2 separate regions of the Homo sapiens genome follow, and region 1 is linked to region 2. The links come from fine-mapping of genetic effects on gene expression. A gene starts in region 2. The other region holds a variant in brackets. All regions are shown on one strand. Distances are from middle to middle.

What was found. PIP is the estimated chance that this variant, and not a neighbour inherited with it, causes the effect.
Region 1: its variant is fine-mapped to the expression of JAZF1-AS1 in whole blood (TOPMed, PIP above 0.99).

The regions. Positions count from the first base shown.
Region 1 is chr7:28,233,919-28,249,053 of GRCh38, forward strand. JAZF1-AS1 (JAZF1 antisense RNA 1) reads left to right here. Exons shown (of 4, transcript NR_034097.1): 4 at 6,539-7,459. Among named protein-coding and RNA genes, the nearest start is that of JAZF1, 61 kb to the left of the region's middle. The variant G/A (reference allele first, on the strand shown) is at 6,189.
Region 2 is chr7:28,173,327-28,188,461 of GRCh38, forward strand. It overlaps JAZF1-AS1 (JAZF1 antisense RNA 1), which reads left to right and starts at 7,131. Exons shown (of 4, transcript NR_034097.1): 1 at 7,131-7,213; 2 at 12,344-12,426. JAZF1 (JAZF zinc finger 1) reads right to left here and starts at 7,469. Exons shown (of 5, transcript NM_175061.4): 1 at 7,137-7,469. The coding sequence starts at 7,251. RefSeq lists enhancers at 5,688-6,189, 6,190-6,689 and silencers at 6,544-6,663, 13,830-14,030.

The DNA of each region.
Region 1 (15,135 bases), 61 kb after region 2:
CTTCCTTCCTTCCTTCCTTCCTTCCTTCCTTTCTTCCTTCCTCCATTCCTTCCCTCCTTCTCTCCTTCCCTCCCTCCCTCCCTTCTTTCCTTCCTTCCTTCCTTCCTTCCTTCCTTCCTCTTTTCTTTCTTTTCCTTTCTCTCTCTCTCTTTCTTCCTTTCTTTCCTTTTTTTCAGACAAGTTCTCATTCTCTCACTCAGGCTGGAGTGCAGTGGGGCGAACACAGCTCACTGCAGCCTCCACCTGCCAGGCTCAAGTGATCCTCCCACCTCGCCCTTATGAGTAGCTGGGACTACAGGTGCACGCCACCATGCCTGGCTAATTTCTTGTATTTTTTGTAGAGATAGGGATCTCACAATGTTGCCCAAGGTGGTCTCTAACTTCTGGGCTCAATCTGCCCACCTCAGCCTCCCAAAGTGCTGGGATTACAGGCATGAGCCACCATGCCTGGCCTTTAACTTTATTATTCTATAATTCTCTCATTCCAATGCCGAAGTATCAACGATTCCTGTAAGACTAGCATGAACCACAATAAGTAAATAGATTGCTTATGACTCCGTATCCAATAGCCCTGAATAGTACATACTTAGAAAACAAAACAAAGCTACTTTACTTTAATATCTCTACCCAAAGAAATAATGTTTTTCCATATTTATAATTCATATAAACAAAACAAACTTGCAGCACTCTAAAAATTGAGTTCTTTAGACTTTAAAACTTAAGGCATTTCTATAACTGCTATTAATCACCAGTCTTAAATATATTATCCTCATGTCTTCAGACTCAAGAAGGCTTTTGTCTATAAGTCCATTCTACATAGCTATTTTATTTGGAAGAGAGCATAACGCAGATGACAAATGATTCATTGTTTCTGGAGCAAAGCAATATTATTCCAGAACAAAAGGAAAGAGAAAAATAGTAACAAACATTGTGATATTTTTGAATTTGGATTGATTTGATCCTTCAACACTGTTCTAAACTATCATATTTCTATTTGATTACTTTTTTTCCTAGTCATATCTTTAACGACAAAAAAATAATGTTTGAAATCTTGCATATGTGCTCGGGTATTTAGTAACTTAAGACATTCGTACTGCATTGAATTCTATCGCACGCAAGAAATTAGAAAACACAAAATCAGTGTAACAAAGCCAACATGGGATTTCTGAAAGGCTTTAATTCAACATTTGTCACAAATGTTGACTAATCACCTTCTCTGGTCTCGTTGTAGTGCTAGGCACCAGAGATAATGCAGTGAACCAGACAGACACCATCCCTAGCCTCATAGAGCTTGCAATTAAAAACCATACTCCAATGGAAATAAGGAAAGAAAGAGGCAAATGCCCAGACCTCTACTTGCTCTTCTGGTCTTCCATTGCCTTCTCAGCTGTTAAACCAACTCTTTGTGTCATTTCCTTTTTGAACAATGAAGGGCCTGCTACTGGCCTAACTTATAAGGAAAAGCTCATAAAATTGATTTGCCAGATTGACTCACAACCCAAATGCATCTCATTTTTATGGCATAAAACGAAGATGTAGTGTGAATAACAAACATACTTACTTTAATGGATGTTAATTGTATTCTTAGTCCCTCTCCAGGCAATTAATATTTTCCCTTGCCATTTTATACATAAAGATCCTCTGAAAAACTCAGCTAAGGGCATAACAGGACTGTTGTCAGTGACCATGGATCCTAAAAGATCCATATAGGCTCCCAGGGCAAGCTGGTCATGGGTAAAACTGTGAAGGTAACGGTCGCTGATCATTGTTGCCTCTCCCTGGAGTGACGAGATATCTCCTTCCCACCCTCTGCATCCAGCATCTCATACTTGTGCCATCCTTTCCTTGTTAAAAGGTTTTCAGGAACTGATCAAGTATTAATGTCCAAAGAATAATAAAACGTGAATTTTAGCGAAAGTCAAAAGGGTGAATTTAGCAGAAAACAAATCTTTAAATCAAAGGGATAGCTCTACATATGTAATTTAAGGTATTAATTAGCATATAGAATATATCTGGGCAGGAGAAAAGTCCAGATATAAAATAACTCTAGAACAAAAATAAGAGAAAACTAGTTAAACATTGGTGGGTGGATGACAGGCATCTGGGTGTAGTAGGGAAAGCCCAAACTCTGGATGAAAGAACATACCTGGGTTCAAATTATTCCTGAGCCTCAGTTTCTCCAACTACAAAGTGGGAACAATGACATCTATAAGATTTTTTCTATTTATGGGATTAAATATGATAATGTATGTAAAGTACATGGACCACATGAGCTTATGCCATCATGAAGTCAGACCACAAAAGTGCTTGCAAATTCTGCATATGCGCACTTCCTGAATGCATTTTCCTATCCGTAAAATGAGGTACAACAGGATTTTCAGCTGAGTCTGAACCCCAATAATTTGGAATACCGATGGAAAATCATGGAAGGGAGAGTGGGAAAAGCAGACTTTGTTTTGTTTTTGTTTTTGTTTTTGTTTTTGAGACAGGATCTCCCTCTGTCACCCAGGCTGGAGTGCAGTGGTGCCCTTTTGGCTCACTGCAACCTCCGTTTCCCAGGCTCAACCGATTCTCATGCTTCAGCCTCCCGAGTGTCTGGGACTACAGGAATGCACCACCACCCCGGCTAATTTTTGTATTTTTTGTAGAGATGGGGTTTCACCATGTTGACCAGGCTGGTCTCAAACTCATGAGCTCAAGTGATCCACCCGCCTTGGCCTCCCACAGTGCTGGGATTATAGATGTGAGCCACCGGGCCGGCAAAAGCAGACTTTTTTTTAAACTTCAGTTTGTTTTTCTAGAGCAAAACAGTGGGGTCTTTAGTTTGCATTAGAATTACTCAAGAAACTCCTCCCCACCTTTAAATGTTCATTTATTTATCACAATGAACAGGAAACATGTAAGCCAGGTAGCTTTTTCCTCAGGAAATTTGTTTTTAAATGCACATTCTGGGGCCCATTCCTATGAAATTCTGATTCAGAAGATCTTTGGGAATCTGCATTTTTAAAAAGTTCCATAGGTCATTCCGAGGCAGGGCAGCTGTGGGCAAACTTGGAGAAACAGGGCTGGAGAGAGAGTGCCTTGATTTCCACTTTGAGAACACAGTGTTTGAGAGTCTCTTTAATGTGGTATTTGGTAATGTAAATGGAAAGCAAAACTCCTTTCCAAAGTGGAAGGATTTAAGACAATGAACAACTAAATTGATTGGCAAAGTAAAGTAAAGGCCGTTTTCATTGTGAAGTGAAATCTTGGCAATGTGTTTCTTTAAGGAAATGCTTCTTGTTCTTAATATAGATTTGGGCTGCTACGAATCTGGATATTCTTTTGGTTCCCAAAGAACCAAATCATTACGCCAGGAGGGCTAGAGCTGAGGTGGGCATGAACAAAGGATGAAGGAGTCTAGTTTCTCTTTGCTAATGTGAACGGAACACAGAGGTGGGCCTGGTAGTTCCAGAGCCCAGCACCTTCAGTTCTGTGCGCAGTTCCCTCTTGGTGTTTTTTTATACCAGATGTTTCAAAATGTGAAAAAGATGCTACTGTCAGCTTGAATTCGGATGCCTTGTCCTTTTCGCAATAGGAGGTGGGGCCTTCCTGAATGTCAGGGCTTCCTGGGTGGTTGGCCATCCTGGAAGGCAGAAGTTTGTGAGCAGTGAAGTTTTCCTTCAAACATTGGTTGGGGCCTGGGCTCTGGGAGAAGACAACTGGTCTAGGGGCTCTTGCTGGGGAAGGCGCTGGCCACTGCAAAGTGGTGGGCGCAGGCCAGGGATGAAGGAGAAAGTGCTAGTAGGCCACTTTCCTCTGGAAGGGCTCCTCTTATGATTCTGCTGGCAGTCACATCCAGTGTGAAGGTCTTTGTTATTCTTTGATCTTTTATTCTTTTTTGTTATTTCCAATCCTTCAGTAAAGTTGGGCACTTGAACAGATTTTTCAGTTCCACAAATTGAAGAGCACCTCCCATATTCTAGGATACTGAAGTTAGCATGGCAGACAAGTGTCCTATCTTTATGGGCTTTCTAACTTTAGATCCTGAGGTCTGAAGGGAATTAAGGAATGAGCTGGCATCCAAAATTGGACTGGGTTGTATGAGGTGAGCTACACAAAGGGTCCGCACTCCTGCTGTGGACCTGGCGGAGTTTGCCTGGAGCGACACAGATCTGACTACTCAATCCACCTTGAGGTTACCACTGATGGTCTGTTATCCTTCTCCCCTATAGAAAATCCTTTTAAATTTGGATTAAAGATTTATAGAGCTTTACTAATGTCTTCAAAGAACGGGCATATGCAGTTTGAACTCTATCACAGAAGCAATTCAGTTCTTTGCAACTAAAAACATTGGCTTCTACTTGAAGTATAAGTAAAAACTGCCTGATTGACTTGATGAAAATGAGAATTGTTTGTAATTAGCAATCACTTGATTGGCATCCAAATAGCAGCCTGTTTGCTCTCTTGAAGCATGCTCAAATCACTCACCATCTTACTTTAAGAAAAATTTCTTTCAATTACAGATGTAATGTATGCTCCTATTGAAAATTTAGAAAATAAAAATGAAGAGAAGGAAAAAAAAGATTATCAATAGTTTCACTTACATATACATTGTGATTTATTTTCTTCTTCTGACATACAAACAGTTGCCACTTTATGAAGGTTTGACCTACAATTTTTCACTTTTTGTACATTGGTACAAAAATGAAATGCATTTAGTAGAAACCATACTCCAAGTATCCACCCAACAATTCTCAGTACAGTATTTAATATATTACATGAGATATTCTACACTTTATTATAAAATAGGCTTTGTGTTAGATGATTTTGCCCAACTGTAGGCTAACGTAAATATTCTGGACATGTTTAAGGGAGACAAGTTTAAACTATGATGTTCTGGAGGTTAGGTGTATTAAATGCATCTTCACCTTATGATATTTTCAACTTAAGAATGAGTTTATTGGGACGTAGCCCCATCGTAAATTGAGAAGCATCTGTATTGATTTTTAAACAGTTGCAATTTCATGGTATATGTGCAATTGCATAGGCTGGTTTCTTAAAAATCTGTTTTTAAAATATCTGCTAACTATATAAAGCAGGAAAAATATCACTTAGAAGTCTACCTCCCAGAGGCTGGGCACGGTGGCTCACACCTATAATCCCAACAATTTGGGAGGCCGAGGTGGGTGGATTACCTGAGGTCAGGAGTTCAAGACCAGCCTGGCCAACATGGTGAAACCCCACCTCTACTAAAAATAAAAAAATTAGCTAGGCATGGTGGCACACCCCTATAATCCCAGCTACTCGGGAGGCTGAGGCAGGAGAATTGCTTGAGCCGGGGAGGCAGAGGTTGCAGTGAGTCAAGATCGTGCCACTGCACTCCAGCCTGGCCAATAGAGAGAGACTCTGTCTCAAATAAATAAATAAATAAATAAATAAATAAATAAATAAATAAATAAATAAATAAATAAAAAGTCTACCTCCCAGAGAAACTATCCCTTCCTTCCTTTAACATCTGGGTGCATTTTCTTATAATTCCTTTTTTTTAAACACATAGTTGTGTTTATGCTGGATTAAAGTTTTGTTAATATGCACAGATCTTGTAAGAAAGAGTTTCAAGAGGCTCAGTTGCAGATCATATCTGTTATTGGTGGTTTAGTAGTCTTTCCCAATTAAACCTCAATGACTCAGGACTCTCAGTATGACTTTTAAAGGTGCAGAAAGCCATCACTTATGTTCCATGGCAGAAAAAAAAGGACGATTATGTTGCACTATGTCATTCTACTTTTGTGCAGGGAAAATACCTTTTGAAAGTAATTCTCCTGGTTCAGTTTCTTAACAGTGTGACCCACATAGCCAATGTTAGCAAGCACTGGAAGAGAACACTATTAATTACAGCTTTAAGTGGCCACTAAACATGCAGAAGATTTCCTCTGAACTGAGAGTTGAAGGATATGGTGCAACAAGCCCATTTCCTGGCACTGGAAAGCGGAGAGAGAGCTGCAGGAGAGGCGGTGGTGAAGGAAGCAGTGCAGGGCCATGCGTGGCCCCCGACGTGGGCATTCGGCTGGAGCTCTTGATTCTAGGTCCCAGCCTGAGTACACGAGGATTCCTCTGGCCTGTTAGCTACAACTTCCTCTTCTGGAGGTCTTACTTGTCATCTATGTCTTGGTCGTCTGCATATATTTTCTAGAAATTTCCTCAAG[G/A]TACTGTGATGATTCACTTTCTGAGATGTCACAAACTTGAGAATGACTTACTATTGTCTTCGTATATGTGTGTGTGTGCATACACACACACACACATACATATGCATGCATTCTGGTGTCATGACCCTTTCCCTAAAGTCTTTATTGTCTTCTGAAACTTACTATTATAGATGTCAAGACTGAGCAAAACCTGATTTGCATCCTTTTATAGAACCTTTTGTTCTTCTTATTTTAATTTTTAGTTTAATAATTTTTCTAGAATATATATATTGTGGATACTTGTTTTGTAAACCCCTCAACTATACTTACTTTCTGTGTGATCCAGTTTGTTTTCCCCCTTTCTCTTGCAGCCCTTCTACCGTGAAGGTGAGCCGTGAAGTCTATTGCCCAGGGATTGGGGACGTTTGTATTAAAGAAGGTTTTGGAGTACAGAAGCAGGAAGATGTGTTGTGGAGATGCTGTTGGCAGAAACAACTGGCCTTGACTAAACAAACCAAGAGTTCCTACAGGAGCAGAGGCAACCGGGTGAAGGCTGACGCCCTTGCACAGGCTTGGGCAGCTCTTCTCCACATGTCCACGTGGCTCACTTCCTTACCTACTTCAGGGCTCTGCTCACACGTCACCTCCTCAAGAAGGCCTTCCCCAACTACCCTGTCCTCACTCCCACCCCTTACCCCTGCATTCCCTGTCCCTCTCACTCTGCTGTGGTTTATCCTACCTGACATAGAACAGGTTTATCTCCCTGTTGTCTAGCAGGCTTTTATCCAGTTCTGCTTTGCCGGACTGTATTAAGTAAGTCTCAGTTCCTGGGCTTTATCACTCAGCATGGGTGGAACACACGAAAATGGGATTTTCCTGTTCCCACTACAGCACTTTTCTTGTGGATACCACATCTCCCCATGTGCAATATTCTATTCCCATCTCACTCTTACCTTGTGCAGAGCTATTTTCTCAGAGCATGAGTCTCTGAACGGAAAATCTACTGCTTTGTGCCCTGCCTGAGGATAAGCTTCACCAGAGCAGTCTATATTGTTGTTGCTGTTGTTGTTGTTTATTGCTGTATTCCTAGCTTCTAGAACAGTGCCTGGCATGGCAATCAGTGGCATGAGTAAATTTATGAGTATATATAATGGACAAGTTTGGGAGAAGATAATTAGTTTGGAAACGGGAGAGTTTAGTGGGAGAGACAGGGCCCTGACTACCTCAAAAAGCAGCAGTACTATAAGAGGACAGAGTTTCTATTTTTCTGCCTGGTCTAGGACTTGTACTGGTCTTTCAACTTGAATTCATGCAGCAAGACAGTGGTGGTGAAAAGATAAAGGCATTTCTACCTGGGTAGACAGTTTCTTTTTCTGGAGACAAGAATTGAGAAGGCCTACCAGATTCTGGCAGTGAGTTGACTGTACTTGTTTTTAGCATTGTGAATTTTTGCCTTCATATGAATTTAAGTAGGGAGTTTAGCAATGCTGTTTCAGGGTTTCCATCCAGATTTTCCGTTTCAAATTGGACATCTATTTGCACCTTTAATTCGCGTAACAAATACTTCACAGAGAATACAAAGTTGAATTATGGGCAGCTCAATTCATCCCCCCAAAGGCAGACAAGAGATGGCAGGTCCAAGTTATGCCTATATTACACAGTAGAGATTATTTTAAGTGTTTTGTTATTGCTTCCAAGTTCACACAAATGCTTCTTACTAATTTATATTGGTCACATTCACTATTCTTATTTGGTACTCATTAGTGACTTTGTACTCTCTTAAAGAAAATAAACCTCCAGATTAACTAAAACATTTAAATATGAATTGTACATAGGCTTTATTCATTTATAAAATGCAAAGAAATTAAGATTAAAAGGAAAACCACATCAAAACCCAGAGACATAAATAAAATGCATTTAAATGGCTCTTTGGTAGTTTATTGATGCTGAGATAGTTTTTTTCTCCCCTTGAAAATATATAAAATTTTCTTTTCATCTTCCCTGAAGCATATCCAAATAAGTTAGTGACTACATAATTAATATCCAGGTATTTTGTGATATTTGGATAATAGGCTTCAACTTCTTCTAAACTTATTTTATATTTCAGACCACACATTTGCCGTTTGTTGATAATGTTTTTGGTTGCAGCCTGAGATATTTCCAGGTCTAAAGCCAGGTTCACATTTTGCTTTGAAGAGACAGAAATTCCAAACAAATACAGATAGTCAGGCCATAAACTTAATTAAAATTTCTGCTTTACTGGATGTTACATTAAATATGGCCATAATGCCAAGAGAAATACTTGAAAAATCCATTTGCATCCACATACTGCTGCTTCCACATAGAATAAAATAACAAAATGCTAAGAAGTACATGTTTGTGTGTATGTGTGTGAGAGCACATTTGTATTAAGCTAGTTCTCTCTTTTGGCTGGGTGGCCATACTAGTCATATTTTGACTAATAAAAGATTTTTTAAAAAAAATTTAAAATTAATTTTTTTTTTTTTTTTTTGAGACCGAGCCTCCCTCTGTCACCCAGGCTGGAGTGCAGTGGAGTGAACTTGGCTCACTGCAACCTATGCCTCCTAGGTTCAAGCAATTCTCATGCCTCAGCCTCCTGAGTAGCTGGGATTACAGGCATGCACCACAATGCCCAGCTGATTTTTGTATTTTTAGTAGAGATGGAGTTTCACCATATTGGCCAGGCTGATCTCCAACTCTTGACCTCAGGTGATCTGCCTGCCTTGGCCTCCCAAAGTGCTGGGATTACAGGTGTGAGCCTCGACACCTGGCCTAAAAGATGGGTTTTAATTAAAATCTGGGATTGGCCAGCTCCATATCTGTTAACTTTCCCATATAGTGCTGGAGCACTAATTTAGAGAGCTTTTGAACTACTGTGTGGTTTGTCTGCCTCCTTTTTGTGTAAATCTAGGACATCTTTTTTTTTTCTTTTTCAATTTGCCTGGAATATTTTCTTATTTAGAATTCTATGGAGATCATAACTCATCTCCAGGAGAGTGAACAAGGTCACTCATAGGAAGGTGGAGCATGTCTTTCTTATACAATTGGAAGGGAGGAAGGGACCCAGCCCTGTCATTTACAGGTGAGGACTCTGTGTCCCAGGAGGGCAAGGGAACATGCAGAGTCTGGTGTGGTGAGCACAGGCCAAGCCCTGTGCAGATGGGGCAGTGAGAGCAGAAAGGACGGCTGGGGCCACATTTGACAGGTCTGGTTGACCCTGCAGTAGGACATCATCCAGAATTTCCATTAGATGCCTTAGTCCCAATTCTTCAGAAAGAAGGGCTTGAGAGCAAGCCTATGTATGAAGTCTTTATTGGTGAGTATGATCCCAAAGAGGAGTAGGGTTGTAAACCAGGAAAGACGGGTAAGTCAGCCACTACAGTCAACTGGTTGTTCTGCCCATCAGGACCTTGTGAGGAGCCTAATGAATTGTAGCCTGGGACCCTCTGTCATGGGTTGAATTGTGTTTCTCCAGGATTCATATGGTGAATTCCTAACCCTCAGTATCTGAGAATGTGACAGCATTTGGAGATAGGGCCTGTAAAGAAGTGATTAAGATAAGTGAGCCTGATAGAATGGGCCCTGTTTTAATCTGACTAGTGTCCTTTTAGGAACAGAAAATTTGTACACACACAGAGACATCAAGGATGCATGTTCACAGAGGAAAGGCCAGGTGAGGCCATAGCAGGAAGGCGGTCATCTGCAAGCCAAGAAGAGAGACCTCAGAAGAAACCAACCTGCTGACACCTTGATCTTGGACTCCCAGCCTCCAGAAGTACGATAAAATAAATTTCTGTTGTTTAAGTCACCAGTCTATCGTGCTTTGTTATAGCAACTCTAGCCAACTCATACGTTCTTTGACAGGGAAAAAGAAAGACTTCAAGTTTTGACTCTTAGAGGGCTCGTTGCCTAGCACTCTGGGTTGCATATGCTTGGGTATGAAGAAATTTCCCCTGGAGTCTCATGCATTGAGGTCAACAGAGATGTCCCAGGGCAGGAGATGACAGGAGCACAGCTGGGTGGCAGATGTGAGAAGCAGATTGGAGCCTATGCGGAAGTGGACTGCAGGGGTTGAGAGGTGGGGAGGGGAGACAGGTAAAGCTGGGAGGAGCAAAAGCAGAACTGAAGTGGTGTCTAATACTCAAGGTAATAATGGTATTGATAATAGGGATACTGATACTGGGTGATATTTATTGAGCATATTTTATGTGCCAGACACTGGGCTATGCACTTTACATAAACTATTTCCCTTTCTATCTCACTAACTCTCCAGCAAACACTCTAGGATTTAGGTACCACTCTTATCCCTATTTTACAGACAAAGAAACTGAGGCATAAGGAGTTTCAGGCACTTATCCCAGGGTCATAACAGCTACTAGTCAGTTGCCTCAACTCAAGTGACCTGGCTCCAAATTTTGCATTCTTACTCTGCTTTTTCTTGATGCTGTCATTAAAAAAGTGTTCTAGAAAGATAAATTTGAACAGTTATTTTAATTCATTTTAATTTCATATACAAGTTATTTTTTAAAGAAAATACAAGGTATTCTATGTGCAAGATTATCACAAAAAGATCAATATAATAGAGTGGTTAAGCATTCTGACCATAGAGCCAAGTTCCTAGGTTCAAATCCCAGCTCTACTATCTTCCTGCTATGAGAATTTGGGAAAGTTACTCAACTTTTCTGGGCCTCACTTCAAACCTGTGGATGATAAAAACAGCCCCTACCTCATAGAGTTAGTCCCAGTTTTCCAGAAAGGGAAGGATTAAATTATTTAATATACATAAACTGCTTTTTGTACGTAATGAGTACTAGAGGTTTTTATTAGTATAATCTTTAAAAATAATTTAGCTGGGCACAGTGGTGCAGACCCGTAGTCCTAGTTACTCAGCAGGCTGAGGCAGGAGGATCTCTTGAGCCTAGGAATTTGAGGTATACAGTGAGCTATGATCATACCACTGCACTCCAGCCTGGGCAACAGAGCAAGACTTTGTCTCTAAAAAAGTAATAATAATAAAATAATACATAAATAAATGAGGAAAAATTGACCAGATGTGACTTTCAATAACTCTTACTCATATTAAATTCTTGAATTTTACATGTGGATCTCTGAATTTTTGCAACACTTCAGTTGCCATGTAAGCTAAGGGACACAGTTTTTTTGAAGTACTGGTCACATGTCAGCTGTTAAACATCACGTTACCGGCATCATAAATGAAGTCACCATTTGGCAAATAATTTGTTGGCAGGAGTGGCTCTCACCAACAGGGAAAACGAAAAAACACAAATAAAATCCCTATTGCAATTATTTAACGCATTTCAGACACATGGCTCAGCAATTTTTTCAACTGCAAATCTCTTTTCCTTCCATCTTTGAACTCAGATGGCTGAGCTGTGCGGAGGAATTGAACTGTCCGGTAAATCCATTTATTTATTTATTTATTTATTTATTTATTTTTTCTGTAGCTGTCACTTATCTGCAGGTGACGCTGTTTACCACAGAAAAAGATAAGCACATTAGGGAAACACATGCATGGTCTTTGTCTTAAAAGGCCATAGTTTGTTAACTGATTGCTTTAAGTTAACGTGGGGAACCCGCATGAATGGTTGCAATAGTTGTCCTTATGTCATTTCCTCCCTTTCAAGTGTAGATAGAGCAAGTTTCCTCATCTGAGAAATGAAGGGGGTTGGACCAGATATCCTCCAAGCTCCCTTTTGGCTGTGACATTCTGTGGCTTCAGATTCTCTTCTTCTTGGGCAGGGTTTTTGGTTTTTAGGGCACTGAACCCAAACAGCCCTACCTGCTAATTTCAGTTTGGGCTGCTGTGAAGACAAAAGGCAAGGCCTGACGTTTCAGTAAAGCATTATAACATATAAAGTGGCTTCACATATGCATCCTTTATAAAATCCTCCCAGAAACTTCCAAGGAATTTTGCAGATGAGGAGAATGAGATCCCAGGAGGTCAAGTGACTTGTCCAAGGCCACACAGCTTACAGGAAGCAAGGCCAAGTTTAAAACTCAAGTCCTTTTATCTGTTGGTGCAGTGTTATTTGCAGCATGCCACAGTCCCTCACAATCCAAGGGATAAACCTGATGAGATTATGTGAACTCTTTCAGTTCCTTCAGCCAATCGGCCAGCATTGACTCTACTAGTTCTGATTGGGTCATGTGTATAACTCTGAACCAATCATTGTGGCAAGGGCAGTGTAAAATTTCTGATTGGCCAGACCTAGTCACAACCTTCCCTTGAAACGTGGAGAGGTTCCCTGAAACACAAAGCTAAAAATAGGAGATGAAAAAAAAAAAATTAAGGGCCCTCATCAGACAAGACAGAATAAATGATGCACAGAAAAATAAGAAAATTCGCATTGCCCACAGAGAAAGAATTTCCCCTAAGATACACTTCAAAAAGAAGTTGTTTTAAAATGTTTTATTTTCTATTTTGTCTTAATTGAATTTAATTTTTGCAAAAGCAGTTTTTTTTGAACTGATGTCAAATCGAATACTAACTCAAGGGTGGTTGAGGGAGCACAATGATAAAAGCCCAATCATTTCAAGTACAGGGATTTCTGAAATTCACATCCATTTAGTGCATTTGGGTCCCAGCTCAAATGAGATAGGCTCATTCTTCTTTGGGAAATGAAATAAGGATTTGAACTGCTCTCAATCAGATCAAATCAACAAACATTTCTTGGACACCTTATGTGTAAGGTGCCCAGGATAAAGAGAGGTGGCTGAGCCAGCCACGTTTCCAGCTTTGTTAATTTGACAATACCTTCTAGTTTTCTGTTTCTTGCCTTGTGATCCCCAGATTTTATACCTGTGAGAAATTTTACTTGTTGGGCGTGCATCATTCACATTCCCTTTGGCTTCTAGAAGCTGCTCAAAAGGTTTTTTTTTTTTTTTTAATTGCTTTTGGATTATATTCTGTTGAGCAAAACTTTCCCCGTGGTTGTTATGGCAACTTTCAAATTGCAAGAGTTAGATGTCAGCCCAGAGGTTTGACAAACAGATGACTTCCAGACAGAGGGGCTGATTTAGGAGTTTTGGATGGGGACACAGGGCTTTTACTGTACTCTGAATTAGTTTACATAATTTGCAAATTGTTTTGGTTCAAGTAAGCTAACCTCTGAACCAACCATACAGTGTTCGGTTACATTCCAAGTCCCTACAAGGAACTACTCAATTCATTCATTAATATTCTGTAAGTTTCAACTAGCAGCTAACTAGTTAGCCCATAGATGTGGGGGCAGTGGACGGTGTCTGCATCTTGCCGTTGTTAGCAAGCTGGGTGCGGTTGTGCTTTTGCTTCACATGTCTCCTAACTCGTCCTCAAGTTTTACTGGCTTCCAAAAACACGAATCCATCCCATTACTAAACCTCTGTCCAGAAGCCTGACTCTTACACACTATCTGGGACTACCTGGGACTGTTAGGCTGAATGTGATTGCAAATCATAATTTTCTCAGTGAAAGGAACGTGTTCCTGTTAAATTCAGGGTTGTGGCTTCCCCCTCCCAAACCCCCAACAAAGACTCTTAGTCTACCTTTTCATTGAGAGTCTGTATAGTTATTTTTTGTTTTTATTGTTATTGTTGTTTGTGTTTTCATTAGGACAAAGAGTTATTTGTAGTTCCAGTTCTTGAAACTAAAGTCTATTCCTTTAAATTGTCATGTAAAGGAAATAAAAAAAAAAACTGTTGAGAGGTAATTCACATACCACAAAATTCGCCCATTTTGAATATGTAATTCAATAATTCTTAGCAAATTTACAGAGTTCTATAACCATGATCACAATCCAAATTTAGAACATTTCTAACACCCCAAATAGAAACCCAGTGCCATTTTAATCACTTTCCAGTCCCACCCCAGCCCCAGGCAACCAATAAAGAAGGATGATTTATCCTTAGTCTACTTGGCTTCACTACTAAATCCTCAAAGTCCCTTTTGGGATTCATGAATGACCATCATTCCAGGAAAAAAATAAAGGAAACAAAACCTTTATTACTTTTTTCCTGGTTATAAAAGTAAGACATGCTTATTGTGAAACAAATTCAAAATTTAAAGAAAAATACTTTTAAAATATGTGATTTGTAGCAGAAAAAAAACCATTGTTATATTTTGGCATGAAATATTTCAGGTTTTTAAATCATATTAGAAACAATAAATATTTATAGTGGAAAATTGGGAAAAATACTTAGAAGCACAAATAATTTTAAAAATCACTTAATTTCACTATCCAGAGATAATCTCTATGTATTAGTTAGCTTTTTCAGTGTAACAAATGGCCTCAAAGAGCTCAGTGGCATAAAACAATGAGCAATTATTTCTTGCTTATAGTTCTATGGGTAGGCTTGGGCAGCTCTGTTTCATGCTACAGGCCAATTTTAGGTTTGTTTCACAGATGTCACTTTATTTCTTAAACTCAGTAATTACTTGGAACATGTCTACTCAGAGGATTAGTGGAAATGTGATATTTCTTAAGGCCTGCCATCAGACCTGCCATACTCCATGGCCCAAAACAAGGCACATGGAGAAGTCCAACTTGAATGGGCGGGGAAGCATACTCCTCTCATGGTGATACTGGGGGAAGGGAGCCAGTATTTGCTAAACAGTATATCAGTACCCTGTAAAGATTTTGATGTCTAGTCTTTTCTTTTTTCCCCATATAATATTTGTATAAAAACTTTTTTCTGTTATGAAAATGGGTTCTTTCTAATAAGCACATGAAAAGATGCTCAACATCACTAATATTAGGGAAGTACAAATCAAAACCACAATGAAATACCACTTCACACCCATTAGGATGGCTATTCTCAAAAAAACAGAAAACAACAAGTGTTGGTGAGGATGTGGAGAGACTGGAACTCTTGTGCACTATTGATGAGAATGAAAAAGGGTGCAGTTGCTACAGAAAACAGTATGGCAGTTCCTCACAAAATTAAAACT
Region 2 (15,135 bases):
TGTGTGGCTGTCCTCACTATCCATGGTGATCTTGAAAGAGAGGGAAAAAATGTATAATACAAATGTATACATATACACACATAAATATATACACACATATGGATATACGTACACACATATATGTGGTATGTGTATTAGACATATACATGTATTATTTATATATGTGTTAGATATCCTACATGCCTTTGTGCCTAAAATATATATTTATTTCTATATATCAATTATATCTATAATACCAAAGAAATGGTGAATTTTTCAGTGTTATTAACCTGGCATCCAGATCATGTCCCTTCAAGGAGGTCTATCTCAGGAGAAAGTCACCATTGTAGTCTGGCAGACAATGAACAGTGCTTCCTTGGGAGGCCAGTGGGTGAGCTGGGCAAGGGACAATGGCCGTCAGGGGACTATCAGTGCTCTCTGGTGCTGGGCAGACAGTCTATTGTTAGTGACCCAAGAAGAGTCCCTCTGACTCCTGCCAAAGTTGACAGCAATTGGAAAGACTTCACCCTTAAAGAGGATATCCACTAATCTGGTCCCTGCTTGCAGCTAGCTTTAAAAAAAAAAAAAAAAAAAAAAAAAAGTAGGTGAAAACTACTGCAACATTCCAGTGCTTACAGCGAGGGGAAAATACAATTTTCTTTACAGCAATTAAATATATTAAATGGAAGGCACTTTTAAAAAATACACACATAATAAATTTCTGACATCTATGGTTTCCTATCTTCAGATTCTAAATAAATAACATTTTTCAACTTAATACGTTAGCCAGGTCAACATGGAATAAATCTATTACCTCACCATGAAACAAAATGAGTATCTACAATCCAGCAAGTATTTCTTTGTACACAGGACACGTCTGTACTGTCAAGATCTGAAGGCGGGGGTAAGAATGGGGTAGAGAAATATAAGGGAATGTGGGGTATGTATGATTGTTGCCCTAGAAGCTAAAACTAGAAAAGGAGGATTTTTAAGGAATTCAGAAACATTGTCTCCTGTCTCTCAGACTCAGTCTACAACACCAGGCCTCTGGCTTCCAAACAGTCCCAGGGAAGCCCCTCATCAAGTGTCACCAGCCTGTGCCAGCCTTAAGGTATCCTCACTGTCACCTACGGGAAGAATTGGGTTTTCTCAAAACAGCTGTCAGTTTGTATTTCTAGAACTGTCAACGTAGGAGATATCTCCGAAATATATGAACTCTAAAGGAAACCATTTTCTGAAGAATATGTGGGTTTTTGTCAACCCAGTCAGTTACAGGCAGAGTTCTGGTGTCTGTACATTTCGGTCACATGTCAGAAAATGTGTATACTAAATGAAAACAATTAGAAGCTTGTGAAACTTATGAGACAGGATGTTCAACAGTGATGTTTTATAAAGGATGATCTGACTGTTTACAGGTGAGAAGAGGCTAATGGAAAAACCAGTGAAAACAGAGTTTTGGAGACTGCCGTAAAGTTTCAGATTTCGGGTTCCCTGATCCTGCCTATGGGGTGTGTGGGTGTGTGTGTGTGTGTGTGTGTGTGTGTATGCACATGTATTTAAAACTCCTAGCATTACACCTGGGGGCTTCTCGGGAACCCTGGGAGTAACAGGGAGATCTTGCCGCCAAGCCACAGGGCACAGGCAGAGAGCAGGGCAGGCAGCAACAAGCCTTTCATTCATTCATTTATTAATTCAGTCATTCCTTCTCCCCACAGGAAGTGTCCTCAATGGAATGCACCCACAGGCCCAAGGCACAGTGCCTCTTTCTAGTCCTGGATTTTTTCAAATAAATTCAGGCCACAAGGAAAGGCCATGTTGGAAGCCGCTGGCTTTGACACCACTTTCCCAGTCCACTGTGGCAAATGCCTCTGCCAGGGTGTAAAGTGCCTCTGGCCACACAAAAGAGAACGTGGCCAGAGGCTGCAACACCAGCACTAGACTGTTGAGGAGTCTCCTATTTTCCATTCTCAGTCCTTCCCAGGAAGAGCCTGATGATGTCATAGTTATAAAATGCCCAAAACAGCACCACTAATAGGTGGATACAACCCATGTTAATCTCGAAGGTAGACTCTGACAGTAGGATTACATATTTATTTAGCAGATACACAAATGGCAAGAAACTAGATGATGTAGACAACTTATTATTGTAGATAAACACTTCACATATATTATCTCACTTAATCCTCACTAACCACTCCGTGAGATGGATGCTGCTACTATCCTCATTTTACAGAGGAGGCATAGTACGGTTAATTTGCCCCTGGTCATAAGGGGGACAAGTGGCAGACATGTGTGTTCAACTCCAAGCAGGCTGGATTCGCTATGCCACTGCTCAGATGACCTTCATCTCGAGTTCAGTTACTTTCTAAAGGAGGAAACAGAGTCAATCGTGTGAGGGGAGGTGAGGAGGGGACTGTCACGTTCTTCACCTAATTGGCAACTGGCATAGGCTTAGCTTTGCATACCTGTCTGGAATTCAAATCTCAAATCATACACATCAGCCACGAAAGCTCAGGCAATTATAAACTGTACCTTAGTTTGCTCACCTAAAAGTGGGAGTAATAAGGACCTATGACATATTGCACAGCTTATCTATTTAGTACACTGTGATGCTCCTTTGAGAAGATAATGCAAATATTTACTAAATCATCTTAGGAGCTAAATTCTACAGTTTTGATAGTAAGTGCCCTGATTTTTTTTTACAGAAACTTTGACCTTTATTAATTAGACGGTTTATAAATCTATACTATGAAATGAAGCACTGTAGGTTTATTACCTGGGTTTTGGAGATGAGGAAACTAACAAGTAGAGACTCACAACAAGAAACCTGTTGATATTCGGGGTCAGGAACCAAGTCATAGCTAATGCAAGCCATTCTTGGTCAATGAGACTCTGCCCCTTAACTGGGCCCTTGCAGGGAAATGTTTCAATAGCAAAGCTGAGGATCCTAACATCTGAGGAAAGTTCTAAATGACCTGCTAGTCTGGTACGATCACATGAATAACTGAATTGGGTCAGATTCCTGTGTTTCTATTCAAGTGCTGCAGGCCTGCCTTGGGGCCTGTGTACTGCCTGCGCCCAGAATGTCCTCATGACTAACTCTCACACCTCCTTCGAGGTTTTGTCTCCCATATCAGCCTCTCAGCAAGGCCCACCCTGACCAATCTATTTAAAATTCTCATACTTTCTCCTCCCAACCCTCCGGACCCTGATCTAGTTTTTCTCTTTTCTGTATCACTAACCACCTCCCAACATACTGTGTATCACATACCTCAATTGTTTATTGTCTGGCCCCCTATCCTAGAATATAAACTTCCTAAAGAGTGATATTTTCATTTTGTTAACCAAAAAATATCAAGTGCTCATAACTTTGCCTGGCATAAACTAGGGACTCAATATATATTATTACATAAATAAATTCAAAATGCAGAGGTACTTTTAAAAATGCACCAAATAATCAAATAAGAATGATTCAACAGTTGTGTTTCTCAGACAAAAAGCCATACGATTTCATAGCACTGGGATGCAGGGTTGTAGCGGCATTTCATGAGCCTGGGACATGACCTTCAGTGCTAAATTTAGTGCTCCTGGTGTTTCTAAGATTCCCAGTTACCAGTTTAACTTCATCTATCTAGGATGTTCATACCAAGAATGTTTCTACAAACTCAATTATCTACTCAAAATAAGAAGCAAGCAAACCTGGACCTGCTTTTCCCATCTCCATGTAACAGACTCAGACCTATGAATGAATTGATAACAAAATTGATGGAAAAGCACTTCACAGTTGCAGGGCTACGGGATTTCTCGGCAATTTAAATTTAAGTGGGGATGGGGGAGAGTTTTAGCTAGGATATTCAGTGTATACACTGAGACAGGTACTCCAGTACTGAACCAGCAGTGAAATGCAAGAAAGAAAACAGGAACACCGGTACAGCACTCTTCCAGGAGAGAAAAGAGCTAAAAAAGTGGGTGGTGAAAATCACACTTCCCTTGGTTCTAAAGCCCCCAAATCCTTGTTCATTATGGGGAGAGGAAAACAGTTAAAAACAAAAGTTAAGCATACACATATAAGATAACAGAGAGTTATTCTCAACTTAATGCACTTAATTAATCCAAACTAAACATAATACTTTTATAATGAAAAACACAGGCCTTGAAAAATCTGCCAAGCAAGAAACACACCATATTCCCATAAATATTCATTTTATCGCTGTTTAAGGGTTTTTACTAGTGGCTAAAGGTAATAACCCAGATAGGCCCCCAAAATGGAATGCTCACCTAAGCATATCTCTAATACTCACGGTTGCTAAATAACAAGACTGTTGAACAAATTAAAAGCAAAATAACACACCTCTTATTCTTTTCATGAATCTTTTTAATGTAACCACTCACCAACAGACATGAAATCAGTAAGTCAATCATTAACGGTCTCCAAATACTTATAGATTGAATCAAAAACGATAAATACCACATAACAATACCTGTCTAGAACTTTGACTAAATGCTTTATATTTTCACCCATGTCTTTTCATCAGAAGTGTATTTATATGACACTATCTACTAATTGGGATATTTTTATTCTTCTTAAGATCAGTTCTTCTTTCTGCATATAGGGCTGCCTTTGATAGTAAAGGGCCTCTCCCCAGCAGAAGTGTATAATAGTTTGAGCCTCTTCATCCTGGGAATTGCAAGTGTTTGTTCATTTTAACATTTGCTTTTCATAAAGTTTGCTGGTTCAAACTGTTTTCAACTGTGTTAGCCCTGCAACACAGTTCACCTAGGTCACTGCTATTGCTGTAAACTTAATTTTTCCACATTTTCACTATTAAAAGGACAACACTAGCCTTCTGGGAATGAGGTAGCATTACTTCAAAGCTGAGTTTTAGAAAACGTATCAAACTCTTAACCTTCTTTAAAAATGTGTGCAAAATATTAAGACAATTTCTACACTTAAAAAAAAAACCTCATGATTCACCAAGTTTTAAACCATCTCAAACTAAATCCTCAAGAAGGATAACTGTCTTTAACACATTTTAATAAATATAATTTATACTGTCTTTTAACCAGCTTGTCTAAGTAGGTAGGCAATGGGGTAAAATTATTACTCAGCTTATATAAATTATAGTTTATTCTGAAATAACTGTTAGCGAGAATGGATGGGATATGCAATGACAGCCTTCTGTAAGTCAAGAGAAATTATTTATTTATATTACTTATATCATACATATTAATGTATAGCATTATCTATATTTATTTTTTACTTATTATTGGGAGTAAGGGGAAGAACTTGAACTAGTAACATTTCTACCAGAACTTCACAGTACCGGTGTTTTCGCTTTATTTTAAACTAGCCATCATGAAAAATCTGATTTAATACTTTCAAGCACTTTCAGTTATGACTATTCAATCATGATATGAATCAGCAAATTGGTTGCTCCATTAAACTGCTTTTAAGACTACCAAAACTTGCCCAGCTCTTCTGTCATACCTTTAGCAGAGGAAATGGAAGAAGCTATTACAAGGACGCCTGAAAACTTGAAAAGTTTCAAAACCTGGACAATTACTCAACAGCATTTTCCTCTGAAAGACATTTTGTAGACGTTTCCCATGATTATCTCCTATTCCGGATGGCCCATCAAATCACATTCTAAACAGGCATTCAACACTTATTAAGCAGCCACTGTGTGCAGAGACAGCACTATACTAAGCAAAGGAGCATAGGGTTCTGCCTCATTTTATTCCTGCATAAATACACAGCAGTCGTGATTTATTCTCTCAACTTTGTAGAAACGTGAGCTGCATCCACATGGCTGAATCCATGGCATTCATTTGGACTTCCTGGGGGCAATTTACAGGTTCTCTGGATTAGACAGCCCCATTGGGACATCGCTCGGACCCTTCACCTTCTAGCCCACGCAGGACAACTCGCTGGCGTCGGTCACACCTTCCGCAGGTGGTTGGACCGCCTAAGCCAGATGCACCCGGCCCACCTCCCTTAGCAGGGGTTCCGAATAGAAGTGTGAAAATGTGTGCAATGACTTCTGCAAATCAGAGGACTTGTTGAAAGGTCCAGGGGTCCAGGCGTGAAGGGAAAGCAGCCACCCTGCGGGGCGCCCCCTCCCCGGCGTCTCCCGGGCCCGGGGCGCTGCGCAGGCCGCCGCCGATCCCAGGGCGCAGCCAGCGCACCTCGGGCCTAGCACCATTAGAAAGGCAAATCGCAGAGCCGGGGTGCATTTAAATGCCCGGCCATGGGCCCTGGGGGTGTCTCTCCAGCGGGCGCCGCCGCAGGGGCCTCCAGGGCGCGTCGACCCCGGGGCGCTGGGCGCGGCCCGCGGGCGCACCCAAGACCTCAGCCCGCAGCGCCCGGGCGTCCGCGCCAGGCCGGGGCAGGGGAGGGCACCCAGAGCCCCCGGGCCCGCGTCCCCGGCCCCGCCCGGGCCCCTCGGCCGCCTCCCAGGGAGAGGGCAAGCTCCCCGGCCCCCGCCCGCGGCCGCCGGCCCCGGCCCCCTCCCGACGCACCACACCTAGCAACCGGCGCTGACAGGACGCAGTGGCGGCGGCGGCGGCGGGAGGAGGAAGCGGAATGGCTGCCGCGGTGGAGCCACCCCCGCCCCCCCGCTCCACCTCCCCGCGGCTGCAGCCGCCGCCGAGCCCTGACAGCTCGAGCCGGGGCGGAAGCGCCCGGCGGCGTGCAGCGCCCGCCCCCCGCTGCCCTCAGCGCCTCGGGCTACTCCGACCACCCGGGCCAACTAACTCCGCGACCCTGCCCAGCGCCCAGCTCCCGCCGCCCGCCGCGCCCTCCGCCCCGCGCCCCGCGCGCCGGCACTCGGCCCCGCCGCCGCAACCCCGCCGCCCCGCCGCGGCGCTCCCCGCTCCCACCACTTCGCAGCCCGCGTGCACGCCCCTGAGTCCCCCAGCCGCCCGCCCGCCCGCCCGCGGCACCTCGGGGCGCCCGCCCCCTCCCCCACCCGAGCCCGCTCCCCGCCCCCCGGCACCTCGCGCCCCCGCATCCCGCCACCCCCACCTCGGGGCTCGCACGCGCCCTCCCCGCCCTGCCGCCTCCCTCCCCGCCGGCCACCCCTGGCCATTCCGGGGCTCCCCGCCCGGGCAGGAGTTTCCGCGCGCCTGGCACCCCCGCCCACCCCCGGGCCATTTACCGATGTGGTTGTCCTCGATGTGCTCGATGAGGTCGGCCAGGGTGGGGAAGTGGAGTCCGCAGCCCCCGAATCGGCAGGTATTGGAGAAGAAGGAGGCGGCGGCGATGCCTGTCATGGTGCTACATCGAGAGCCCCCCTGGTGTCGGCTCTGCGAGCGCCGGGCGGGCGAGGGAGGGAGGGAGGCCGGGTGGGGTGAGGAGAGGAGGGGCTGGGGGAGGGGGAGAGAGGCGGGGTGAGGGGAGCGGCGAGGACGGGACGGAGGGAGAGGGGGCGAGAGAGATGGAAGGAGAGCGAGGAGCCACCGGGAGGCAGAGGGGAGGCGGCGGCTGCGGCGGCGGCGTCGGGAGCGGCGGGGGGAGGGCGGGGGCGGGGGCGGGGGGGGAAGGCCGCCGCAGCTGGGAGGAGGGACCAGGGCGCGCGGCTACAGCTGTGCGGCCCCAACCTCAGCGCGCGGACCCAGGCCTCACCTGCGAGCCCTGCCACCAACTTTATCTCGCTAGGCCTGCCCTTTACGGCTTGCCATCCGTGCCATCTGTTTGGAGCCTCCTTGGTTATGTATATGACGTTCTTAATACACCCACATCGATTAATTACACCTACCTCCCTGCGAGGAGAACTCAGGGAGTTACCCTGGTCCCTCTCAGGGACATTTTTTTGTACTCAGCCACCTGTCTAGGTGTGACACATTCACAGGGGACCCAGGAAAGGTAATTGTGTGCACCTTCTTCTTTAAACCTTCTTTAGAAAAAGTACACATTCTCCGGAGGTTTGTACTAACTAATTGATTTTAATGAAGCTTTCCCTCTAGGCCAGAAAAAAATCTTAGCTTTATTTAAATTTCAAAATAGAGTGCTTGGTTGTCAAGTGCATTTGCCTGTGTTTTACATATGTGCCACGTTTTTTATACTCCCTGCTCCTTCTAGGAAAACAAAAACTAAAATAATTTCATCACCCGAAATTACAGCACCCTACTGCACCCACTCCACCATCTCAGGTCTGGTAATTAACCCATCCTCGTTTCAGCCACTGCAGAAAGGACAGTGCATTGGTTAAGGCTAGAAGGAGCGGAAACAACGGCAAGGGACATAGTGACTCTTCATTTAAAAAGGAAGCGATTTCATCCTGTGAGCATTTAAAGCATAATGTTGACCAGGTAACCACTTAAGGTGAATTTAGTAGCTTCCCTGAAAACCAGCATTTTGCTGAGAATCAATTACTTTCTTGTCCCCACCCCCTCCTCCAGTTGCAGTCATATTTCTTCTGTAAAGTGTGTATTTTCCAGTAGCACTTTTCCAGGTGTCTAAGAAATATTACACATTATCAGCAGTTTATGACCCAACAGTACATTTTTTTTATTAATATTAATATATGCATACTGAATTTAGCATTTTTCCTTAGGGCAAATTTCACTTACCCTCTGGTGCAGATGCATGGAGAAATAGTATTCCTCCCTCCATAAACTCTATGCATCTCTGTCTAGTGTTATTTCTAATAATGGGATTGTTTGCTTTTCATGTAAGTGCTTAGAGTAAAGGCACATGTAATATGTCTGTTGCTACAGGAAGTTTTATGATCTGACCATCACCGGTGGCATTTTCTCTTCTCATCTCTTCTGTCTTGCAGCTCACAAGGTGACAAACTTGCTGAGATGAGATTCGGCTTGGGTGGGGCTGGGGCAGCTGTGTCTTGAAGTTCAGTTTGGTGCCAAGAATGGTTTCATGGGCCCAATGAGGGTGGGGGCAGGGCCCTGGTGGGCCTGATAATGAGCCAGGGACCGAGTTGGCAGGGGACTGAGGCCAAGGCCAGACAAGGGTCTAAAGAGCAGGAGTTAGAATTCTAGATCTTGAATTAGAATTTTGGCAGCTGTGCAGTACATTCAGCTGCCCAATCTGGGAAGGCCTTCAGCTGAGAGCAGGCAGAATATCTGGCAGGCACACACCACACCAAATGACATGGAAATGCAATACAAAACTTCAGCCAAAAATGATGCCAAAACAGCCACCCTTAGAGATGAATGTTAGGCACCCCCACTATGCAGCATCTGGGAGCCCCAAAAGCTTTGAAGAAGTAGCAGTTCTGTCCTCCAGAGGAAAAATTGTCTACGTGGAGTTATTAACTCCCAAGAGTGTGGAGAGGTGGTTCAGGCAAGAGAGTTCCGAGATGGGAAGTGCCAGAAATGTGCAGGTGAAAGATGAAGGAAGTAAGGGGCCTGGGTTTCACTAATGCATGGCTTTCTACTACCTCCTGTCAGTTTCACTATTCCTAAAATAAAACCTTGCTAGACCAAATTGAAAAAAATAGATTTTTTAAAAAATGAAGTGAGCTAAAATAACTTCCAAAGTAAATCAAGATATTGGTTTTTAAGACAAAATTATTTTCTCTACCTTGGATAATTATTACTGTTTTGTAAGGAATCAGTTCATTTTGCCTGAAAATAATCCACCCTACTACTTCTTCATATGTGACTGAAGCTTTGTTTATGTGATGTTCTGCTCATACTACTTTTTAAAAATCTGTACACTCTAGGCATTTCCGGTCTTTATATAAGATACATGATTGTGATCTCTTAGACCTGGAAGATACTCTGGCTGTCAGAACCACTGGTTTTGGAGATGTGGTAAACTGAGGCCGGGGCATCAAGCAAGTTCTCCCAGGTGCACACAGACAGTTTTTTTCTCTGTACTCATGGTGCATTTAGAAGGCATTGATAGACAATAGAAGGACAAATTATATATAGATAGTAACCACAGGCAAAGTTTTTTAAAAATTGCTAATAGCATGCTTACCTTTCTGTACTTATATTTTTAAAATGTTTGTTTCCAGGATATCCCTTTAGATAAAGTCAACATCTAAGCTACAAAAATATATAAAACAAACAATTCAACTTATTACATCCGAGAGAGAAGGTGATGACTGATATACCTCTGTACTGGCAAAAAACATCTGTCTGATTTGGAAAGTAAAAATATTTGAAAGGAGAGGGAAAGTGAGGGAACTGAGAAGTCAGAATGATATGACAGTGGCTGTAGACAAGAAGCATTCTCTGGGTTTAAGAGCCTTTTCTTGAAAACCATCTGTCTCTCCCCAGAGCCCAGTGCCTCCCAATGTATAGGCACAAAGTATGGATGTGCAGTGGCCCCATAATATGGTACTTAGCATTACAAATGGTTTGAGATCGCATAACAGTCTCCCCAAATCCAGCATGTCCAGTGCCCTCGAGATGGGGCAGCTGCCGGAAGGTGTGAATCCACTGGTCTAATGGAGCCAACTGAAGACACTGAGGATCCTGCTTCATACAGCTGTCTGTCCTCCACATACAGGAATTGGTTTATTTTGGCATACACTGATAATCAAAACCGTGCACTTCCTGTGTCCTGTGTGGACATCTGTTAATGATGCAAGAGGATCTATATGAACATTAGATTCTATCTTGAATCTAACTCTATACTGCCTTCAACTGTAGCTTTCTCTGGCTTTTTAGATTGTTTTCCAGGTCCCTCTTGAGGTGCTTTTCAGGTTTACTAGATATTTCTTCTATTGTCACCACTGTGTCGAAGGAGCAGATCATGAACCTTGGTCTTCTTCAGCTCATGCAAGTCTGTGGACGCTTACAATGTCTGATGTTCCCTGGCTCTTGAATGCTAAGGCTGCCACTTCCACCAACAGCAACCTTGGGCTCAAAGGGATGCCTTCTTTTTAGGCTCCATCTTCTTCTAAGGAGGATGATTTCTATTCCAGGTTTTATTGTTTAATATTTATGTAACCAAGTTTTCTGTATTTATTTTATTCCAGCTCAGAAATGAATCAGCTTTATCTGCTCTCTGGTGATTAATTCTCATTTTGTCCCTCAGTCTCATTTTGCCTAGGATTAAGAGCTAGCCTTAGAATGAGTAATGGGGGTATTCTTATTAGTTGCCACCAGTGACCTCATGAGTGTTAGCCCCTAGCTCTCCACCTGGCTGCTCCTGCCTACTGACTGTATACGTAGTTTTGGCATTTATTTCCAGTTCCTTGAAGGACTTTTCCAGAACTAAAGTAGTAAAACACCCACCCAATCACTGCAGTTCTAATTGAGCATCCTGGATCCATTCCACTACATTATGTGCCACACTACTACCCAGATGATAACTCCAAACCCAAATCTGATGGGAGCCACTGCTGCTCAGGCCACCCCAACCTGAGTTTTAGAATAATGTTAACAGAAGCAGCTAAGCAATTACTGTTTCATTTTTGCCTTTAACCTATCTTGATTGAACATCTATGCAAAGCTCCTGTTACACAACTCCAGAAGGCTCTATTTATATAGGCAACTGCATGAACAGTGACCCTGGGATCTGTGCAGCCTTGCAGTCCTGTTCCACTGCGCAAGATATGAGGGATACAATTTGAATAAGACAAGCCCAGTCTCTCCTCACGTGAGAGAGCACTAGGTGCTTTGCAAAGTCCTCCTCAATCTATTCTAAGGGCCTGCTAGGGGTGGCTTGGTTGGACTCCGTGTACTACCCTCTTGGCTGCTCTGGTATCTATTATTTCCCTTCTTTCCAGCTTTGGCTCACTCAGATGATAACTTCAGTTGCTGTTGACTGTAATGGAGCCACTAAGGCCACTAATGCTTGTAAAAGACTGCACAGCCTTTTTTGCCCAAAGATGTGTTTTTAGACGTCACTGATTCTCACCCAGCAATGCACAGTCTTGAGGATTTCTATAACTTCAAAGGCTACTAGCACGTTTTTTGTTCTAGCTTTTTGAGGTTTTACCAGCTCACACTATTGCAGTCCGTTTCCTCTGGACTCAGACAAGTATCACTGGAGATTGGACTAGAAGATCAAATTGGGAATACTCCATGATCTCATCTCCCCTGCTAGAATGTCTTAGTGGTAACTTTCACTACCAGAATAGGCTTCCTGCTTTTCAGTGACCAAAATTGATCCCAGCCTTACCTCCTACAGTTTCCCCACATGTACTGACAGTTCAAGATGTACCAAATCATTTTAGTTTTCTTTCTTCTTCTTCTTTTTTTTTTTTTTTTTTTTTTTTTAAGATAAGATCTCACTCTGTTGCCCAGGCTGGAGTACAGTGGCACGATCACGGCTCACTGCAGCCTCGACCTCCTGGAGTCAAGCGATCCTCCCATTTCAGCTTCCTGGGTAGCTGGGATTACAGGTGCACGCCACCATGCCCAGCTAATTTTTTGTATTTTTTTATAGAGATGGAGTTTTGCCATTTGCCCAGGCTGGACTCGCAGTCCTGGACTCAACCACCTTGGCCTCCCAAAGTGCTGGGATTACAGGTATGAGCCACCGCATGCTGTCATTTAGTTTTCAAAATGCGCTCACTTGTTCAACAAAAACCACCTTGCCTTTCTTTGCAAATATTGTGTAGCCTGTCTGGAACATTCTTTTTCCCTCTTCCCTATTCCCTCCCCCAAATACTCTGCAGCAACTCAGCATGTCATCTCCTCCAGGAAGCCTTCCCTATAACTTCCTCCTCTTCCTTCCCTGCTGAGCTGGATGCCTGTCATCTGTGTTCTAGCCAAATTCCCTCTGCATCAGATTCTGACTGCTGGCTTACTGGTCTTCCATCTCCTGTGTACCAGTAGTTCTCAAACCTTTTGCTCAAGAATCCACTTGAACCTTGATCTCATTAATATTTATATTTACTTATAAATTATATACAGGTGCTACTTTTCACATATAGTATGTATATTATAGGCTGGGCACAGTGAGTCACGCCTATAATCCCAGTACTTTGGGAGGCTGAGGTGGGAGGACATTTGAAGCCAGGGGTTTGAGACCAGCCTGGTCAATATAGCAGGACCCTATGTCTGGCAAAAAACTAAAAAATTAGCTGGGTGTGGTGGTACACCCCTGTAATCCTGGCTATTCAGGAGGCTGAGGCAGGGGGGAATAACTTGAACCCAGAAGTTCAAGGATACACTGAGCTATGATCACACCACTACACTCCAGCCTGGGCTACAGAGTGAGATTCTATCTCTAAACCAAAACCAAATGTAGTATGTGTGTTATGAAATAAATCAAATTCTTTTTAAAACGCAGGAATAGAAGGCCTAGTATCTTCATACCATACCGCAGAGTATTGCCTGGCCCACATCCTGGGGTGAATGCATTCCTCCTTGGAGGCCTCTGCACTTGATGGTAGCCTCCTTGAGAAAAGAAACTTTTATTTTTTTTTTTTTAGCCGGAGTCTCGCTCTGTCGCCCAGGCTGGAGTGCAGTGGCACCATCTCGGCTCACTGCAACCTCCGCCTCCTAGGTTCAAGCAATTCTGCCTCAGCCTCCCGAGTAGCTGAGACTACAGGCGCCCACTACCACACCTGGCTAATTTTTTGTATTTTTAGCAGAGACGGGGTTTTGCCATGTTAGCCAGGATGGTCTCAATCTCCTGACTTCATGATCCGTCCACCTTGGCCTCCCAAAGAGAAACTATCTTTAGGCCTGCACTGCTCAATAAAAGTTGCATGGGAGTATAGTTCAGCACTGTGATAAGGCAGTGTGCTAAGACTTCAGTTTTCAATGTTAAAGCAATTTCTAACAATTTGTTACTGTTCCTCTCTAATGTAGCATCGAGGAAAGATAGTCTTCAATCTCTTAGCTTGGATAGATTACAAGTCATTCCTTCCCGTGGTTGTGGACACACTTTTGACGAGACCTCTTTCTAAGGTCTAGCACAGGGACTGTGCTGCGCCAATAACAGGCACTTAGAAAATGCTTGTCTCATTTGTTTTGATGGTGCTAGTTTACTAGTCTCTGCTGACGCAAAGCCATTCAACTGGACAGAGATAAGCAGGGAGCCATTCAGCAATGACATGAGATCTGACACTAGCTCTCCTTTCGTAGACTGACTACGATACCTTTCCCTTTACACAGATGTTCAAATTCATTATGGTGATTATTTTAAATAACTATTACCACATTCATTGAGTGCCTACTATTGGACTTGATGCCTTAACAGAGAGCAGTTCTTAAATCCTATGAGGTAGACAAATGCTGTTATGCCCAAACTATGGATGAGAAAAACAAGACCCTGGGAAATAAGGTAACTTGCTGAGGTCCTTAAAGCTAGTAAGTGCTGGAACTAGGATTGAACTCAGCTCTGTGTGACTCCAGAGTCCTGGCACTTAACATTCTACCCGTACTTGAATTTGTGGATTATAAAACACTTTTGTTCTCTCCCCTTGAATCTGGGGGCGGGCCCATGCTCACATAAATCACAGAAACTAGGCTAGAGGGGCAACAGCATCCTAGTTTGCCAAATGCACTTAGGTGAGGATACTGAGAATCAGGATGGGGAATTGATGATGGAGATGTCATGAGGCCTCCAGCAGGAACTGAAGCTCTTGGCTTGTCTTTTGCCCTCTGCTTCTCTATTGGGAGGTCCTCTCATTACTGTTACCAAGCTTGTTTCTGGTCTTAAATACCTTATTTTAAAACTAAACTTTATAGAGACGTCAGACTTTTAAAAGATACCCTTGGGTTGCTCTTCACCCTGTTCCTGACAACCTCCACTCTGCGCCTTCCTGCTGGTGATTTTGGGGTGGAGTAGGGAAAACAGGCATCACCTCTCATGAGGAAAGGTGACCCTTTTGCTTTTGTCATGCTCTTTATCTTTGTCTCCTGTTTTGTAAGGACTTAACTCATGTTGCCTTTCAGCTAATTGTTTGGCATAATTATATTTTCTGTTGCAATTTTTGTTCCCAGAGTCACAGAACAAACAGTCCCATTAAACGTCATCTCAATGGGCTCTGCAGCTCAATCCTTTCTTTTCCAGATCTGGACCAATGTGGAGGCTACTTTTGCCTTTCAGAAAATGGACCCAGATTCCAGTCATTTCTCTAGGAAATGACTTTTCCCCTGGGTTTTATAACTCAATTTGCCTTTCTGTAATTTTCATCCCATTATGTGTTTGCCAAGATAAATGATTCTTTCTTCTCTGTATTACCTTATATATGTAATGACTTTTCTTATTTATAAGGCCTCAAA